Regions from separate parts of the Homo sapiens genome. Here region 1 is linked to region 2. Evidence: fine-mapped expression QTL. A gene starts in region 2. The other region holds a variant in brackets. All regions are shown on one strand. Distances are between the middles of the regions.

Region 1 (4,405 bases), 89 kb after region 2:
TCTTATATGAGCACGGATATTGAGGTGTTTATCTCTTTCTAAATTTGAGGATAAAGGGACTTCTTGCTGGTTCTCCAGTGCGTAAAGACAGACACGTGCTGCTCTCCAGGGAAACATTTTTTTTTTTCTTCTGCTTACAACACACCCTTCAGGTAGATTCACGTGATCTTTTTTTGATATGCATATACAGGGACTCTCAGCCTGCTCAATGCTGACTCAACTTCTCTTCAGCTTTCTTGAGCTATCAGCTACCATGATCCATCCTGCAGTCTGAAAGAAGTCCCCTCACTACATCGTGATATATATCATGGTGGTTCCTCTGGTTTTCAATTTACTTCCAATCCATATTTGAAATTAAATCATCCTGGAAAGATAAATCCCAAAGCCTCCTTTCCCGTGATCACATTTTGCTCTTGACTATTTATAAGATATACTGCAAAGTTCCCTCCTGCCAGTGGTTGAAATAGGTAGTTGCGGGGGAGCCTTGCTGTTGATGCTCTTTTACAACAAAATATTTCTTCTTCTTTTTATAATTTTCCAGGATTCAAAAATGGGTGAAATTTTCCTTTACTTCAAAATTGTTGCCTCTTTCTTCCTGAGTCAAGTTAGGTCATAATGGTGAACACAGAAAAAGGTTTTTAAAGAATGACTCTGCAGGCCTGTCCTTGGTGTGTTACATCAGAACTAAAAAACAAATTCAGGTTAATTCTTTCTTAAGACAGTAGCCAGGCTTGCAATTTCCATATGTATGTCTGCATTCATGTTACAAAACAAAACAGAACAGAACAAAACAAAACAAAACAGTATAAAAGAAAGACAAAATAGAAATATCTCAAGATACTTAGCCCCTGGATGATGAGATAATAGATCATGGTAAGTATAGATTGTGTGTATATATTATGTATTTACTCATTATACACACACACACACACACACACACATGCATGCACACAGACACATGTATACCTCTTTTTTATTTTTCATACTTTGCATTAATTTTGTGGTCAGAAAAAATGACTTTAAAACATCTCTTTGTTTTTAGAAATACCACTAAGGTGATTTTTTCCAGAATCCCTCTAATGCCGATAACATAGAAAAGAAAATGGAACAAAGAAAAAATAAGATATGATGAGGATTATTCGGTCATAGTTGAGAAGAACATTTTTATGACAAAACAATAACTTACGGATGTAAGTTATGAACATTACTGTGTATGACATTTTTTAAAAATGTGTTATTTTTTTCTCTCCACAACATGGTAATGCCTGATTGAAGCACTATAGCAGTTAGCTGACCTTATATAACAGTGGGATTGTTTATATGAACAAGACATAAGAAACTTATTTAAGTGGAGCAAAAAAAGATAAACTTTAATCAGAACACAAGAGATTTTTTTTCAGCATCTTTCTAAAATCCTTTTATAATCTCTAAATAAAGGGAATGGACCAATGATCTCTCAGGCCCTTTCCTAAAATGTTATGTGATAGCATAAAACCCGACTTCCTAATAAAGGATAATGCTGCATTGAATCAGGCCAAAGCGATTTACTGATACAAAAATATGAGAAACCCCTATTAATCAGCAGAGTAAGGGAGTTTATGACTGGCTTATGGCTTATTTTCTTTTTTTCAGAATAACAAAAACAAAGTAGAATTGAATCTGAGTTAAAATAATGATGTTAAAATAATATTGTCAACATGAAACCAAAGCTTTCAGTATTTCAATTTTAACGTAAGATTAAATTGCACATTTGGATAACATGTGTTTGCTTATATTTATGAAATTAGGTTTTAAATATAATCAATGCTAGGAGCAAATTTTTTCATTGTTTTATTTTTCCATATCTCATAGCATTCATTAGGGTGAACTAGGTGGAGCTTGATAGCTCTAGTTTATTGCAATGACACTTTATTTATCAGGAAGCACATTTTCTGGCTGACTCAAATGTCTACAACCCTGCCATAAACCCCAAATATGCGGGAAATTGTCCTTAAACCATTTTATATCCTAGTTGCATACACACACACATTGTGTTGATGAGTAAACTTATATACAGTATATGTAATATAAATGTTAATATGTTATATAGTATTAGATATAACATTTGTTTATATTTATATGTATGAAACTTAATGCTCATTTGTTTGGAAGAAATGATCTA[A/C]AATCCATAATTCACTCAAAGTTGTTAGTCCTCAGTAAAGGATAGATGTGGAAAAAAAAAGAAAAAGTGGGTTGGGTAAGATATTTTACAAGCAAAAAATAAAAGGAGATGACAGGCTGATAATAAGAAAGGGGTGGATGACTATAAAAAAACAAACACAAAAGCAAAAAGCTTATTGACTTGAGGGCACTGAAATATACAAGAAAATCATTCTTATATACCTACCTTAATGCCAAATGAGGAATTGTTGCATTAAACCTTAGTATAATAATTGAGGACCATAATGATGCTGATTAAGAAACCATTGAAGTTTATAATATTTTTAAAGGTTCTCTCAGATATTATTAAATAATCTCACCTTTAGCTCGTAGATGGATATTTGTCAATTGTCTGAAAGATACACTTCTGTTGAACGAGCTCATGATTTTGTAACAAATTATAAATAATGCTGTATTATAGTGCTTTTGAAGTGCATTCCCATCAATACAGAGGCAGAATTATCTATTAGGTTCCATAGAGTCAGCTGAAGTTGGTTTAAAGGTTTTTTTTATATTTAAAATTATTTGTTATTGTTTATTTTTAGTAAGAGAGAAGATTTTAAAATTCTGAGAATATCTCTTTGGATGGTAGTTGTTTTGTAATCTAAAAGATCATTTAAAAATCCTGCAATTTGTAACCCCTTGTTGGATCATAGCTACTGTAAGTTTGTAATTCAAAAGTGATAGCTATAAGAGAATCAGGAAAAGTATATTACAAAAACTTTGCTGTAATTATTATACACTTTTGCATATATTCTAAAAAAAGAAAAAACGCAAATATTTAAATAAGTAAAGGATTCTGTTTAATTATTTTTCCCTTTTATATGGAGAACTGTTAGGAACAGACTTAGGTGCTGAGAAGGGGCAGGAACACTTTTATAAGAAGTTGTATGAAGCTGATTGGTAGATCCAGACAGCTTTTTGTTGAGTGACGCAAAAATTTAGATCAAGTATGGACAGCTGTAAATAGTAGCTAGAGGACATTTGGCAGCCAAGGAATGGTGCTAAACATTGGCTATGGAACCAATAGTATTGAGTAATTAGCAATAACAGAGAAGGTAAATGAGAAAACTATCAGAAATTTAGGGGCAATTCATGGGATATTTGGAAAATGTGCTGAATATGTATAAAGGAACTGGAATGAAATAAAAAGTTTCTTCTGAGACCTATACTTCTGAGTGCCTAGCAGAACATATTTGAATAAAAATATCATGCAATTTAAGTTTTAAAAACTTTACTTTGCTCACAATGACTTTTTGCAATACCTGAAAATATGATTCCAATATGGAATATAATAATGTAATCTTTCTTGGTATTATTAACAAAATATACTAATGATGCCTTCAAATATTAGTTCCAGGGTATTAATTCAGTAAGGCAGTTTGCCAGGGCATAATTAAAAAGTCAAATTCTAATTGTTGCAATAGGGACCCTCTTAATAGTGCCATAATTAGAATCACCATTTTCTTATAATCTGGCAAATTCTGTCATTCATTAATAAAAATAGTATTTTAATTTAATTATACAAATGACTTTTTTTCATAGTTACATTCCTTCATATAGAGTAATGATTCTCTTCATTTTAAAAAACATATGTAAGTTTCTGTTTTTTCAACTTAAAATCCCAAACCTAGACTTTATGCACACTATTGTACATTCACAATAGCAGAAAATTGGCAATTGTTGGGCTAGTTCAATGTTTCCTTCCAATTTATCCATTACCTAACAATAATGCTATTGCATCGTCCTTTTGTTTCATCTATTTCTAATTATTTGAATAACTAGACTGTAAACTCCATGACTATGTTTTAAAATTAGCTAGGACTATGTTTTAAAATTAATCATATAGCAGAGAACTTGGCATGTAGTAGATATTCATTATATACTTATCTAGTGATTAAAAGAATGAATGAATGAGTGGGTTTTCCCTTCTTTTCCCAATTCATTTGGCTGAAACTTGAGTACTCTGCCTAATTCTATTCACTGCCATTCCTGACTGGTTCCTGAAAGCTAATGCTGACTGAAACAACATATCCCAGAATAATGACTTCTCATTTCACCATAATGATCTATTTTCCTGAGTAATAATTCTAGAACCCTTCACTTGTACAGTTAAAATAGTTGGTTTGACTCTTCAAATACTAAGACCTATAGTTAAATTTCTTCCCCATAGCTGAGTTAGAGTATGTAGTTTAACAAATTTAAG
Region 2 (4,405 bases):
ACTCACCCTATTGCTCCCATAGGTCTTAGCCAAGAAGTAAACCAATACCGATAGCCTAAGCTCAGAATCAGAGCAATTCCCTCTCCCTCCCCAGCTGCCGGCACCCGCACCCTCCCCCCCATCCCCCGCCCAGCACTTTGGGTACCCAATGTGCAGAGGCGGTGACTATTTATCGGGTGTTATCGGAACCCATGATGTGATGGAATCGATGGGTAACCCGGAGGCTGCCCTGAGCTTCCAGATGACGGTAAATGTTGTCTCGGCAATGAAGTCTCTGTTATTTCTTGAACTAAAACCCCTTACGTTCTGGACCTGGGCTGTGTCCTAAAGGCTATCTCACCTTTTTCCTTTTCTTTAGCTCAGGATAGCGCGTCTAAAGGACAGGGAGGGCTCCAAAAGTTAGGGAATATTGAGCCATGGGGCCCCAGTTTTTTCCGTGTCCTGCTGGGAGCGCCCAGAGCCATTTGTTTGTCCAGAGGGAGGACAAGAAGCCCTTTCTCCCTGCTGTGCCCCCTTCCCACTTCCTCCTCCCCACTGCTGGATCTTACAGCTCACTAATTTTTTCAGATCTAAGATTAAGTATTCCAATATGGAAGCAAAACTATCTTCCCTAGAACAAATAATTAAAACGCTGCATCATTCATTTTCTGAAGAGCTTTGAGCCGTCTATAGAGCCTTTTCTAATCTGCTGTCGTCAGGCGAAACGCACAATGGTCTGTTTAGAAACGGAAAATTATTAAAAGCTCAAGCCTTTTTCCTTCTACCTCTTACAACACCAGCGAGCATTCCACTGGGGGAGGGGTCCTTCGCTCCGCCACCTGGCCTATTTGTTGGAGTTACTTACGATGTCTTCACCCAGAAAAGAGGTCCGAGGGTATGTTAGTCTCCGGTACCCCTCCTTCCACCAACGTCCTTACACCTAACTGATCCAATTCAAAACTGCAACAAACCCCTAGCACCTGTGAGCGTACAGAATACACCGCGGCCAAACTCGATGTGCTCTACAATGCACATCCTACATACGAGAAATACTGGTTTCAATTAGGCGAAGTAGGAAAGGATGGCGGCGAGTACCTATGGTGCAGAGCGCTCAGGATCTCCGAGGTTTGCTGCGAGGGGCTACCCAGCAGGAGGGGCAAACTCTCTGCGAAGCTGAATTGTATCCATCATACTGTAGCCTTGTAGCTTCTCCTCTTCTGGCCACCAACTTTCCGAAAGGCTACCGAATCACGCTTGTAATCCGTTTAAATGTTTCCACCTTTGAGACTTGCAGGGAAATGGTCGCTGCATACCAATGGGAGAGCGGGGCGCGCACCTAGCGCGGCGATGCCAGCGACAGGGAGCTCACGACCACAGCTCCCTATGCCCTCGATGGTTGGTAGGCAGGCAGGCAGAGTGAGTGTCCCAGGACTAGGTTCCTTTGATTTAAAATCTCGGTGCTCTGGATCAGTGGAGAGCTTCGTTGTTCCCGAGAGCCTGAGCTCAGTCTCTGGATTTCTCTCTTTCTCTCTTCCTCAAAGGTTGTCACTCACAGCGCAATCCCTGCCCGAGGCCTCCTTCCATCCGAGAAGATGGAATTAGCCCTTGCTTTTCCAGGGTGTCTTTGCTCTTTGCCCTTTAGGTGGGTGGGAGTGGGGGTTGGTGGCGTGTAGATGAGAGAAGAAAAGGGTGGGGAGAGGCGGAAAGGAGGCAGGAAGGGGGCGACTAGATCTCAGATCCCAGCATTGGTCAGACGGCGAAGGTGGGGGGAAAGAAGGAGAGGGGGAGAGAAGATACAAATACACAGTATGGCTGTGCACACCAAATTCCACTTGGATTTGGGAGATCTCAGGCAAAGCACGAAGGTGAAGCGATACCGTTGGCAGAGAGTGAGTCCTCTGACCGCTCACCATTCAAGCACCCTCACTTCTCGAGCGGGAGAAGGTGCGGGGGAGGGGGGTGGGAGGGGGAGGGGACTGCTGAACGTTTCAGGCCAAGGAGACGCTCGCGGCGGCGGCGGCGGCGGCATCTTTTAAGACTGACCTGCTTTAAAAGTGCCACTTTAATGGCCTAGGAAATAACTAAAATCGGATTACACGTTACTTACCAACGTCTCCTCCTAAACTGGAGCGCCAGGTCGTGTATAAGGAGTCAATATAGGAAACGCAGGGCTGGAACCTGAATGCAAATCCATCAGCCGCCCCCAAATCGCGCACCAAGGGAGCGGCGCTCGGGAGCCCCCAGATCAGCCCATCGCCGGAGCTCCGCCAGCGCGTCCCCCCCGCACCCCCGGCCCCTCCTCCGCGCCAACTGTGTAAATCAGCCGCCGCAGTCCTCTCGCCGCGCATCGCAGGCAAAATCCCGGCTTAGGAAGCAAGGAAGCAAGTGATCTCTCTCTCTCTCTCTCTCTCTGTCTCTCTCTCTCTCTCTCTCTCTCTCTCTCCTCTCTCTGTCTCTCTCTCTCTCGCTCTCTCTCTCGCTCTCGCTCTCGCTCTCTCTCTCTCGCTTTCGCTGTCCGCCTTTCCCTCTCCCCCATTATCGGTCACAACCTGGCAGCTCTTCAAGAGACACCCTGTGAAATTGAGTGTCGGGAAGTCAGCATTCTGTACCCGTGGATTGATTTGTAACTTTTATTTGCAAATGAGAGAGATGCCTGTTTGGAAAATTACAGCCCAAAAGGTGGAGGGTGATCAAATTAAGAACATCTGAGCTGTATTGGTGGGCGGTATCGCTAAACGCCTCCGGGGAGCGGTTTCCAAGTGATTTGCAGTAATCCCCCACCTTCATGATACATGGGTGACGATTTGAAAGTACACATATTTCCTCATCTGTTTACATTTGCCGGGGGCGGGGGGCATAAAACTGTAGGGCACAGGGAGTTGGGAGGGGGGCATTTGCCTGAGAGATGCTGGATACCATTTCGCGATAAATTAGATACGGACACTGGAACAATTAATACGTGTAATAACACGTATGTGAAAGTATTATTACAACATTACAGAGGCGACCATTACCCCCACTGCAGTCATACTAATGCAGTCATTCGTTTAATGCTCCATTCAATCTGCAGTGTAAACCAACGCAATTCTTTTTAATAGATCCCTTTCATCAGAGACTGTGTTGGAAAGAGGGCAGTCTTCCACTAACTCCCAAAGTGAATAGAAGGTAGCCTGGGGAATCATCTCTGTATCTCTTGCCATTTCTTCCTGAAGAGAATGCAATACATTGTCCAAGGAAGGCAAAGTTATTTAGCTATTATAATTGTAGGTAGAATGATCTTGAACCTATTTTCAAAAGCATTCAAAGAACTCTAACTCACCCTTTGCAAAGAAACAGTACTCTCTTTTAATTTATGCATAAAATCCTTCGATAGACAGGCCTGGATATATGTTTTACATCTTTATTTAGTGAATTTTGTATATACTATAATTTATACCATCGTTAGTTCATATTATTGACATATAATACCACAAGTTAGTGTCCGTATTACCTACATTAAAAGATAGGAAAGGATGGAGTTGGTCACAGAGACAGCCAGGGGCCTGTGGAATTTTTTGGGATATATACATATACACACACTCTAAATTTAGTATGGCAACTGTGTTGGTTCTGCATAAAATGAATTTAGATTATATATATATACGTGTATACGTGTGTGTATATATCATACTTACAATGTTTTCATTTGTTCTTTAAAATACTCAGCATTCTTCAAGATTATTAAGATTAGTAAAATATCTACAGGGACCCAGAAAGTAATAAAAAGCACCATGTATTAAAATGGATTCTTTTTAAATATAGCATTTCAGACTCACTGGCATGAATTCCAAACCTCTTTCCAGTATTTTCTAGGATAATAAATTCTTCCATGTGAATTTTACATACAGGAAGACATAGATATACAAAGAAAATTTGTCATAGGTGTTTCACTCACTGGGTCGCCAAATTGGGCTTCAAAGTGGTATATCTAGGCAGGGTTGCCAAAGGAGTACATCCCCATAATGAATCAGTCAGATTTAGGAAAAACCAAACTGCATCAGTAGTTTGATGTGTCACAGAGATATTTTTGGCCTTTTCAGGTGGTTGCCCAATTTGAGGAGACTCACTCCTGGATACACCATATTTTATGTGGGCAAGTGTGAAATCACACACATGCCCTTTGAGCCTCAGGGCTGGAGGATATTAAAGTAACCCTGAAAGACATTGGGCAACATCACTCCTAAAGTTACTGAATCTCTTTAACTTTTTGGAACTATTTTCAAGGTCATTTTGATGAGAGAGTTCTGAATATATTAATTTGTTTACTCTGAGCAGATGTTAGTGTGGCCTGATGGTACTGGGGAGCTGCAGAAGATTGAATAGCTAGAATAGGTTGTTAGTGTTAAACATGAGTACTACCCATACAAATATTACAGGCCAGATAAAA

What was found. PIP is the estimated chance that this variant, and not a neighbour inherited with it, causes the effect.
Region 1: its variant is fine-mapped to the expression of SLITRK3 in esophagus muscle (GTEx, PIP 0.94).

What each region holds. Positions count from the first base shown.
Region 1 is chr3:165,283,335-165,287,739 of GRCh38, forward strand. All of the region lies in intron 2 of LINC01322 (long intergenic non-protein coding RNA 1322), which reads left to right. Among named protein-coding and RNA genes, the nearest start is that of LINC01322, 79 kb to the left of the region's middle. The variant A/C (reference allele first, on the strand shown) is at 2,162.
Region 2 is chr3:165,194,506-165,198,910 of GRCh38, forward strand. SLITRK3 (SLIT and NTRK like family member 3) reads right to left here and starts at 1,879. Exons shown (of 2, transcript NM_001318810.2): 1 at 1,075-1,879.